Linked DNA regions of Homo sapiens: region 1 is linked to region 2. Evidence: fine-mapped expression QTL. A gene starts in region 2. The other region holds a variant in brackets. All regions are shown on one strand. Distances are from middle to middle. Region 1 overlaps EGFLAM (EGF like, fibronectin type III and laminin G domains). Region 2 holds the start of EGFLAM (EGF like, fibronectin type III and laminin G domains).

Region 1 (5,377 bases), 110 kb before region 2:
TAATCTGTAAAAAGGGGACACTATTCCTCCAGCACAGTGTTTCTGTGAGGATTAAATGGGTTTTGTAGGTAAAGTGCCCAGCACATTGCCTGGCTCATAGTACATCTTCCCAATGGTAGCTCTGATACTTCAAATGTATTAATTTGAAGTATTTTGTATTATTTGAAATTTATTAATTTGAAGTAATTTGTTAATTTGTTAAATTAAAATTTAACAGTTTTAATTTAATTCAGATAGTGCTATTTGATAATTAGGTAATTTTATGTATGGGAAAATCATGTTTTGGAAGCAAAATAATAGTCTAAACCAATACCAAAATAAAAAATATAAATGTATCCTAGAATAAAGGGTTTTCCAAAATGTCAGAAGTGATCAAGGAGAAAAACCACGATTGAAATACTAATTATAGCACATGCTTTTGTATTCATGAAACAGGTCATCTAATAAATTTTGTTATTCTGATCTGAGTAACTGTGTATACCTAGAAGTGTAAAATTATGTCTATTTAAGAATGTTTCATAACTGAGAATTTTCATTGACTTAGCATGGTTTTGTCCACCTTCCCTACCCACAATTACTTTGAAATTTTAAAATTTTACTTCACATAACAGGCCAATTATAATAAAATCTCACAGATCTGTAAAACACTTTCATATAACTTATCCACTCAATCCAGAAAAGCAGGATCCAGCAATGGGGAAATTATAATCAGAAACTCTAAGACCAGATCAGTGTTTCCGTTAAAAAAGAAGCAGTATGAGGCCGGGCGTCATGGCTCATGCCTGTAATCCCAGCACTTTGGGAGGCCAAGGAGGGTGGATCACAAGGTCAGGAGTTCGAGACCATCCTGGCCAAAGAGACCAGCCTGGCCAACGTGGTGAAACCCCGTCTCTACTAAAAATACAAAAATTAGCCAGGCATGGTGGTGGGCACCTGCAATACCAGCTACTCGGAAGGCCGAGGCAGGAGAATTGCTTGAACCTGGGAGGCGGAGGTTGCAGTGAGCCGAGATCGCGCCATTGCACTCCAACCTGGGTGACAGAGTGAGTCTCTGAGTCAAGAAAAAAAAAAAAAGGAGCAGTATGAGAGGTGCCCCAACCCACCCATCCTTCCCTGACTCCAGTCTCTATGCGCACATCTAAATCAGCATGTGCTTGTTATATCTCATCTTTATTCTACATTCTTGACTCTACGGAGAAGGGAAAGCTAAGGGACAGACTGAAAGAGGTGAGCCTGGAGCAGCTCACGAAATGGGAGCAGGAGTTCCATGGGGAGGGTGGATGGGGACACAGCACCAAGTGGCTGCTCACTTTGTAGTGCAAAAAGACGAACTCAGTGTTTCAAAGTACTGTCGGCCCCTAGCTCCTGCTATTCCATAAAGTTCAGCCAAAGAGTAATCAAACAAGGCCTTCCTTTAAATCGAATCATCAACATTTCTTCTAGGAAGAATGCCGTCAGCCTTTGGAATGTGTCTGGGAAGTTTAAGCTTCTAAATTCTAAAGAAGAAGAGTGAAAACATTTTTTTTTCCTGGGTGATCAATAGTACTTATAGGGTGCACGAGCATGTGCATATGTGTGTGCGTGTGTGTGTGTGTATGTGTGTGTGCGCATGTGTGTGTTTTGGAGTATAGCCTCCCTATATAACCCAACAATTTAATTTGACAAAAGGCGACCCGACATTCAAGGTTAGGGTAGAGGTTGTTTTCAAAGGAGCCAAAATTCCTCAGATTTGGGGAACCTCCTGAATCTCTACCCCTGAACACAGCAGTGGCCTTGGATGTCAGCTGTGTGGGTGCTTTGTGAGGAGAGGAGATTATTCAGCTCTGCTAACCAATAAAAACAGGGCTTCATGTTGGCTGGTTAAGCCAGTTACCAGTGCTGCTTCCTTTCTGACAGCACATTTTCTGGGTAAAGAGGACCCAAAGGAGCAGCCGGGCTCTACCGGAGGAATGTATTGGCAATACTGAAAAGATCAGAATCTTCAAACAAAAAAGTGCCAACATTTTCATTCTCAACTCTCCCTGCTACACAGGGTTCTGAGTTTACAGAAATATACCCTCCACTCCCCAAATACAAAAAACGTCTAAAATGGGCTGGACTTGACAAAGTGTTCTAAGCTTTTGCCAATCCAAGAATGGTTCTTGGCATTGTGGGGGATTTTGTTAAAACCCACACCAAAAACAGAATCTGACTTTAACAAAACCCCCAGGTGATTTGATGAACACTGGCCCAAGTGTTCCTAGGCACTATGAGAACATACACCATTGGCTACAGCCCCAGCTCCATGTCAGCGCTCAACTTCTTTGATACTCCTCGACCATCATTCAGAGGAGTTGATGTTGTTTGAATATCCTTTATTTTCAGGCGAACACGAACGCTGAAGCCTCCAGGGGCCTTAGTTTTTTCTCCTATGGTTCTAAGATTAACTCATTTTCTCAAAATATGAAAAGGAGGGGGAAGGCTGCATATCATTTTGCTATGTGGTCTGTTGTGTGACTGTGAAAGAAAACTGACCTCAAACTTCCCAAGGATGATGCAAAAATAAATCCTCTGCTGACCTCCAGGACATAGAAACAGCCCGTGTCCCTGTTGACAGCCTCTAACTTCCAAAGGGCTGGGAAAACCACAGGAGGAAAGCCTGGGGTTAGCCCTTTTCCAGGCTGTCCTTCTGCACGGCATCCAGGTCAAGTGAGTCTTCATGAGGCAAGCCCAGATATGCAGCTCCCTTGGTCCCTCAGAAGGACCCTGGTACTCACAGAGGGTCCGGATGATGTCACTGGGCCAGCTGCGGGGGCTGGGGCCATGGGAATTCATTGCCCTCACGGCAAACTGGTAGTTGGTATCTGGATCGAGGCCCTTGATAACCATGGAGTCCATCTGGATCCGCTCATGGATTGAGGTCCACTTCTTGTCGAAATCTGGCCTTTATTGATTAGAAAAACAGAAGAAGCAGTAGTTCAGAAATACCAGAGGGAAGGGAAGCTAGCTGGCTATGTAAACTAATAGCATTTGAACTCTGGAAGCAATACTTGTAAAAGTAAGTTAACATTTCCTATCTGAAAGTAATCCTGATTTGAAATCACAAGTCATCATTTGCAAGTCCCTGCCGATAAAAACAAGTAGATTATTTTTAGGGTCAGTTGTAAACACTACTTAAAGACAATCCGTTTTTCCTTGCAAGGCCCTCACTATGATGAAAAGATCTTCACATAGGAATTC[G/A]CTTTCAAGGACTCTGCCTTCCAGATGTTCACAAACAATCCTCCCTTTGGCAGTCCCCATCCCCAGAGGTCAGAAGAACACAGATTCCGTCTATTCACAATCTGTTCACAAAATAAATATAAGTTTTATAGGGTGACTAATTGCATGAATTGTCATGGGAAAACCCAAGAAGAATCTGTTCACGGACATTCTTAGTCTTAATTATACAGCTACGCCAATGTGCTGAATTTTTACATGTCCTTTGGAGGGCCCTTCAGAGAAGGCAGACCTTTGCTTAGAGCTCCCATCTGGGAGGTAATACACAGAAGGCGGGAGGATGAGCTCTGGAGTTCAAATCCTGACTCTCCTACTTACTAGCTGCTACTTAATTCCTTTAAGACTCAGTTTTCCCATCTGTAAAATGAGAATAATAAAAGGATCTACCTAAGAGGACTGCCATAAAGATTAAATAAGATATATATCTCCAGCCTAGTACCTGGCATCAAATTGTAAACACTCAGCAGGTACCAGACATTATTCAAGGGACTTCTTCACAGAACTAGTAACTTATAGCTGCCTGCTTACTCTATACCTGCATGATCCAATATGGTACCACTACCCTATGTGGTAGTCAGTCATCACTTCAAATGTGTCTGAATTGAGATGTGCTATTGTGTAAAATGTACACTGGATTTTAAAGAAAAATAAAAAAGAATGTGAAATATCTCAATAGTTTTTATATGGGTTATATGTTCAAACGAGTATATTTTGGATACAGTGGGTTAAAATATATTATTGAAATTAATTTCATTTCTTTCTTCTTGCCCTTTAAATGCCACTCTTAGAAAACGTAAACTTTCAAATAGGCTGGCGTTGTATTTCTACTGGATAGCACTGCTCTATGTGGACATCCTAGCTGGAGGGGAGAAAAAAAGAACATTCCAGGTAATAAGAACTACAAGATAAAAGTTGGAAATAATTGTGCATGGCCTGCAGACAGTGTGAATGGCCTAAGGGGAGGAGAGGCTTTGTGTTAATGGCTAATAACGTCAAGGGCTTTCCATCTACCAAGCACCATTCTAATACCTTAACTCATTTACTTCTCAAAAATGCCCTATGCAGTAGGTACTAATATTAAACACTCCACCTTTTTTTTTTCTTTGACAGAGAAGGGAACTAAGGCACTGAACAGGTAAGTAACTTGCCCAAGGTCACATAGCTGATAAATGGTGAGGCCCACTTGGATTGGTAGGATGAGGTTAGATTTACAAGACCCTTAATACTGGATGAAAAGGGGGAGTGACGGTGGGCGGCAGACGATTCCCCATCCCTTTGCTTGCTCCCTGGCCACCTCTCAGGTGTTCTGTTGTTAAACACCTCTGCTCACAGATATTTAGAGGAAGGCAGGAAACAAAAAAGTTCTGTTTGTCTTTGAGGAGCAACTTACCAGGCAAGGAAATAGAGAGTCATTTTGCTAAAAGAAGATGCCGGGGTGAACAGCGGATTTCCTTAATGTGAGCTCGCCCAGTTTTTCATTAGCAGGAATGATTGAAAGCCAGATGGAGTCCTTATGCCCAATAAATGATGCTTCCTCAAGCTCACCAAGCTGGGGGTAGTGTGTTAACGTGTTTGGAAAAGCACAGTTCACAGGGTATGCCCATGGAGGAAGCAGGGCTGGTTTCTCTTTCCTGATATTCTTTTCCCAAAGATGGAATTCTCATGTAAACTAACTTTATCATCGAAGAGAAAACCTCGGTGAGTGGAAGGAAACACATTTACAAACTCAAATTAGAACAAAATCACTTCGCAGAGGAAAACCACAGGGGATACCTAAAAGTAAAGTCAGAAAAGATGTGATCTTTAGATAAAACTCTCTGCTATCGTTTGCTAAGCTTCCCTTGTGATATTTATAGAGGAAATAACCCATATCTATTCTCACAGTCTGCTGTTATTTACCGAGGACTACCTGCAAAGACCTGCAACAATCTTTATGTAAAAACTACAGCAAAACAAAAAGATGATTTTGTACATGTTGTCCATTTAATGCAGAAAAGAAAAACTCTTATTTCCAGCAAACAAGAGATTAAATCATTAGCATTTATTTTTATTCTATAGAGTGAGAGAGACAAGCTCATGCAGATTGAATGCCTGTTCAAAACCTTTAACATTTTGCCTCTGA
Region 2 (5,377 bases):
CTAGTCTTTCCAAGGGATGTAAATGAGCCCAGGAGGGAAATTTCCCCTGAAGTTATGAAGTAGCTGTCATTTTAATCTGAGAAGCTTTCCAACCTGAAAGCTAGTGTCTGGATAAAATTATAAAGTAATAAAAATAAAACTCTTCTAGGTTGAACCTAGTCTAAACACTTCTATCTCAAATTTGATGTAATTAATATGCCAAAGTATTTAAGAGGTGGTGTTTCCACTATCAAAACCCTATCTATGCTTCAAATAAAACCAAAGAGGCCAGCATGGCATATTCCTGGCATGAATATCAGAATGAGACCCTGAATGAACCAGGTAGAAAATCTTTTTAGGAGAAGAACTCCAAAAAATAAGAAGGAAAATATGATGACCCACATGAGCAGTTTTATACAACAGGTTTTTATAAAATGCTTTTTAAAAATTCCCCTTAAATGGATTAAAATATATCCTTTAAAAAGCATTGCATACACTGTTCATGCTTTAAAACTATAGATATAACTATGCTTTGTTTAAAAATTGTGACAATTAATAGATGATTTCATGTGAATAAATCTGCAAAATGCAATTGATCGTGATGTGGTTATCTTAAGGAGGAAAGTTAGAAAGAAGCCCTTCACTGAAATCCTTGAAGGTATATGTATGTGTGCGTGCAGGAAGAGAAACAATTTAATGTGATATTACCTTGGACTGAAGCTATTATCTCCAAAATGAATTGAAGAGCTCATAAATGGAGTGGCTCATAATTTAAATATGGTGTAGATTATGATAATGACCTTAGATTTCAAGGCAGGTAACAAGTGCTGGTAATAAGAGACACAGTGCAAAGACTGAGGACGCTTCCAGAGCCGAAATGCAACAAGTCATATTTCCAGATAGAGAGTTTCAATGCGAAAATATTTAAGCATTCACATGGGATCCCGCTAAGACGATTTTCTCTGCCCTCTGATAAATTTTCCTAGCTTTGCCTCTTTCTTACAGAAACGTTTGTGAAGACAAACTGCACTTTCTGTGAGGTTTTGCAGACTGCATTCAAATAAAAGTAATATTGTTTTCCATTGTTCATAAGATATAATTAATCCCATAAGACAACCTCCCTTACAAAGTAAGTTAAGACAAAACAGATTTTTCAGAATTCTAAATATGGTCCCAGCAAAAAGTAATAAAAATCGTTATTTGGGAAACAATGTTTAGAACTTCATTGTTCAGAATGTTCTACTTTGAATAATCTCACAGCATAGGCCAAATCAAAGTAGACCAAAATAAACGAAGACTTTTTACCTATATGCAGCTAGAGGAAACACACGTTATTATGGTTTCAAGTTCTCCCCCAATTCCCAGTCCCTTATAACAGGTTACAACGTACATTTCTTTGTTTAAATGCCAAAGCAAAGACAGGAGTTCAAAACACGGTAAAATTAACCCACTGGGTGCTTCCTTCTGAACAAATGGCCCCAGAGTGGAAGAGGATGCTAAGAGCAGAGTCCACATCCCTGCACAACGCGTGGGCAGGACCCGAGATGGGCAGAGGGGGCTCCAGGCAACCCTTCAGACACTTAACAGGAAATGGCTGGGCTCTGGACAATATGAATTGAGTAAAATGTTTGGAGACGCAGGAGGGGCTGGTTTGACTCCTCTGCATGGTTGCCATCCTCTGTAATTGAGACAGCACGATCGCTGTCCCAACTGTCAGCTCTCTGCGGTCAAACACGGGGACCACCACCTCTATCTACTATGTCTGGAAAATTGATCATTCTTTTAATAAATAAATATCCCTAGCGCCGCCCGGGCTCGGGGGAGGGCGAGGTTTGCGTCTTTTCTCAGCTCCTGGCAGAGCTGAAGCGAGTTAAGCAGACGTTGGTCGGGGAGAGGGAGGCGGTGCGCTGCCCGCTCTGTGTCCTCGCCCCGGAGCCCAGCAGGGGCGCTCGGGGCGTGGTGGCTCTGGGCGGAGGAGCGCATTACCTGGTTTTCGGATGGCCGCTCGGAGCGACACCGCGCCGGGTCCGAGGCTGGAAGCCAGGAGCAGGAGCCGGAGCAAGACGCCTCGGATTAAATCCATTTCGCAGCCGGCGCCTGCAAAGTTTCACCAAGTCCCGGGCGCACACGGAAAGGGCGTCTCCGGGGGCGCGTGGGGGACGCGGCCCCAACGGATCCCCGGGCCGGGGCGAGGAGGTGGGGGGCTGCGAGGGCTGGGCCCGGAAACACGGGTAGTTCCAAGAGGTAGGACTGCAGCCGGGAGGTCGGCGTGCGCGAGTGAAGCCGGCTGCAAGCTGCAGGGCTTTTCGCGGGGGCGGGGGCGACGAAGGAGGCCGACTGGGAGGGAAGGGCTGGCCGCGGGAGGGAGGGAGGCTCGACCGGCCCGGGGATGAAATTACAATCGAGTGGAAGTGAGAGGGACAGGCCCTGAAACCTTCACTCCTCGCCCACCTCGGAAGCAGACAGCCCGCCCCTCACCCTCTCTAGCGACCCCCAGCGCAGCCCTTCCCCGCTGGTGACCTAGATTGGGGACCTGGGAGGGACCGACTTCAAGCACTGGAGACGCAGGGCAGGAGTTAGGCGACTGCGGGTCCAGGACCCTCCGCGGTCCTCACCCTGAAATCTTGGGGCGCCCCCCCTCCACCCCACCTGGGCCCTCCTCCTGCCGCGCCCCTCTAGGCGACTTTTTCTAACACCTCAAAGGTTGCTGTAGTTGGTCCAGCGCACTTGGGGGATGCGAGGGGTAGACGGGGGTCTGTGATTTGCAAGTGGGGTGGGGGTGAGAGGAAGAGAGGCGGGACCGTCCGGGTCTGAGGCGCTAAGAAGATAAATGGGATTTAAGGCTCGCAGATGGAGAGCTGAGGCCAGGCCGCTCAGACTGGGACGCCGGGTGGAGATTAGGGCCTGGAGCGGGGGAGTGGGGGCCCTTCCCGGCAGAGGAAGGCAACTTGAGACCCTCCTGGGGAGGAGATGAAACTCCAAGTTAAGCCTGGCGTCTTAGGGAGGGACGCGAGCTCGAGCCCCCAGGCGGACCGAGAAAAGCCCCTGGGCGGCGCCCAGCTGGGCCTGGGGCAGGGGGCCGGGGCGGGGTCCTGGCCTCTGATCCCGGGATCGGGCTTCCTGGGTTGTCTCCTGAATGGAGAAAGACTCTTTCTCCGCCGCTGAATTTGCTGCCCTAGGACTCAGTAAAATGTACCTTTTGCCAGATTTCGCGGTAGTGCCTGGAGAGGGGAGACCCTGCCTGGGACACAAGTCCCGTTGCATACTGGCGTTCTGACCTCCAAACCAGCGAGAAGAGAAAGCAGATACAATAAATAAACCAAGAGGGAATAAACTTAGAGGCAAACGCGGCCCTCGGCAGTTCCTGGGGAAAGATCAAAGGCCGTAGGAAGTGCCCCGCAGAGGAAATCTGCAGTCACTAGCGACAGGACCGCGCCCGCCCCCTCCCCACCTTGCAACGCTGCCAGGACTCGGTGGGCGTCCTGGCTCTTCACAGTTAGCCTATGTTTGGGAGCGCGGGAGGAAACAATGTTGACTGATATATTCTTCTCCCCTCCCCAGCCCCCCAAACACACACACACAGGATTTCTACTCCTCTTTTAAGAATGAAATATCCCCTGGCTGGAGAGTTTGTAATGAGCTCAATCTTGTTAGTTAGCAAAGCTGAGTGTGTTCCCTTATGTGTTGGCATTTTCAAGTGTGCAATTGTCTGTTCACAAATAAATTCAAAGTCCCCTCCAACTTGAGTATTTGGAAGTTTTAGCTGTGACACCAGAGCTTGTCCTCTTACATAGAACTGGAGCAAAGTTCAGACAGAACTATGCTCTTCACGTCCAAGGTGACCATAAAGCCGGCCACTAAGCTAAGCAAAGTGACTGCCCCCAAGGCTGCTAGTCTCAAAGGTCTCAAAATCATAGACTTTTTAGCATTTTAAAGGTCATCTAGGCCATGCCTCCACTCCACGCAGGAGTCTGCTTTCAGCATTGGTGTCGGGTCGTGCCACCTCCCTTTGAACTCCACCTGTGTGAGAGAGCTCCTCCAGCGCCAGCTGAGAAGTTGTTAGAGGCCTTTCTTTATGCGAAAGTGATTTCTTATCTCGGACTTAATGTGGCACCCAGAACCAAGCGAGTGTTGCAATGCAGATGCCTCCCATGCAGGCTTTCCTACTTAAAAATGATTCTCTGTGATGCTGAAACTGGAAGTAATAATAATCGTTGATATTATGGCTACCATTTATTTAAGGTCTCCTATGTACCAGACCTTCTTTGAAGTGCATTTTAATCCCAATAACAACCATACCAGGAAGATACTGTCATTACTATTCTCGCCTTTTACAGGTGAGGAACCTGAAGCATGGGAAGGTTAAGAAACTTGCCCAAGGTCATGCAGCTCCCATGCAGCGCTTGAATCCAAGGGGTCTGATTCCAGCTTTCAGGCTTTTGAGAGAACAATGTGGAAAGTAAACACAGCAGTGGACTGAGAGGATCGGGAGATGTGGGTGTTTAATCCTAGGCTCTGCGTATAGTGTGCCTTGGTAAAAATGAATGGGCTGGACGAAACAATCAGTAAATTCCAGGTTTTGCTTTCTCTTTAATAGCTGATAAAACAGCATCATCTAATCTAAGCTACCTTTACTCTGCATGTGCCTTTTAACAGACCCTGTGCAAATTGTCCACTGCAAATTTCGCAAGCCTGGGCAGCCTTCTTGCCAATGTCCTCCTCATGTGCCCACACCACCTCGGCATCCCTGGCCCTGGGCCTCCCTTCCATTTTTTTGCAGATGACCATAGGCGATTTGGGAAATAGGCTTGGTTTCTTCAGAGACCCCTCTTGTTTTTTCCTTGGGGAAAAACAACATTAGATTATACTGTTGTATTTTTACCTCTGAGGGCCTGCAAACACTCTGGATCATCAGGCCATTGAGATAAGACCTTATTTCACAAAATCTGCTTCAAATCTAGAGCACATGTTACATTAAACTTATTCCCTTCCTTTGCAGTTCAAATCGCATCCTCCAAGGGAACTGGAAGATTCCCTCTCCTTCCAGTTTGAAAACCAACTATGGCATTTGTAAATCTGACTAAAGACAAATAGAACACTTGCCTTTCACTCTCTTCCTGCTTTCTGAGAGGAGGGGAACTAAAGAGGGGCCAAGAGGCTTTGAATGTTTCATTAAAAAAAAAAAAATCTGTTCAAATTCACTGGAGGTCTAAACTCAATTAATAAGGTCACCAGCAGAAGAGTGACCTGCCTACTTTGCTCATTATCATGGAAGAGGAATCTGACCTTTGCTGCATGGAATAGATTTGGAGGCTGGTAGAAGAAAGTAAAGGCAAACTTATCAATTATAGAATGTTTATTAAGACTCTAAATGAGAGTGACAAAGAGGCAGCAGCCA

What was found.
Region 1: its variant is fine-mapped to the expression of EGFLAM in lung (TOPMed, PIP above 0.99).

What each region holds. Positions count from the first base shown.
Region 1 is chr5:38,367,842-38,373,218 of GRCh38, reverse strand. It overlaps EGFLAM (EGF like, fibronectin type III and laminin G domains), which reads right to left. Exons shown (of 22, transcript NM_152403.4): 6 at 2,757-2,923. Among named protein-coding and RNA genes, the nearest start is that of EGFLAM-AS2, 33 kb to the left of the region's middle. The variant G/A (reference allele first, on the strand shown) is at 3,220.
Region 2 is chr5:38,255,440-38,260,816 of GRCh38, reverse strand. EGFLAM (EGF like, fibronectin type III and laminin G domains) reads right to left here and starts at 2,258. Exons shown (of 22, transcript NM_152403.4): 1 at 1,966-2,258. The coding sequence starts at 2,062. It overlaps LOC124900966 (a long non-coding RNA gene), which reads left to right and starts at 2,151. Exons shown (of 2, transcript XR_007058739.1): 1 at 2,151-2,223; 2 at 3,186-3,720. RefSeq lists an enhancer at 3,127-3,628.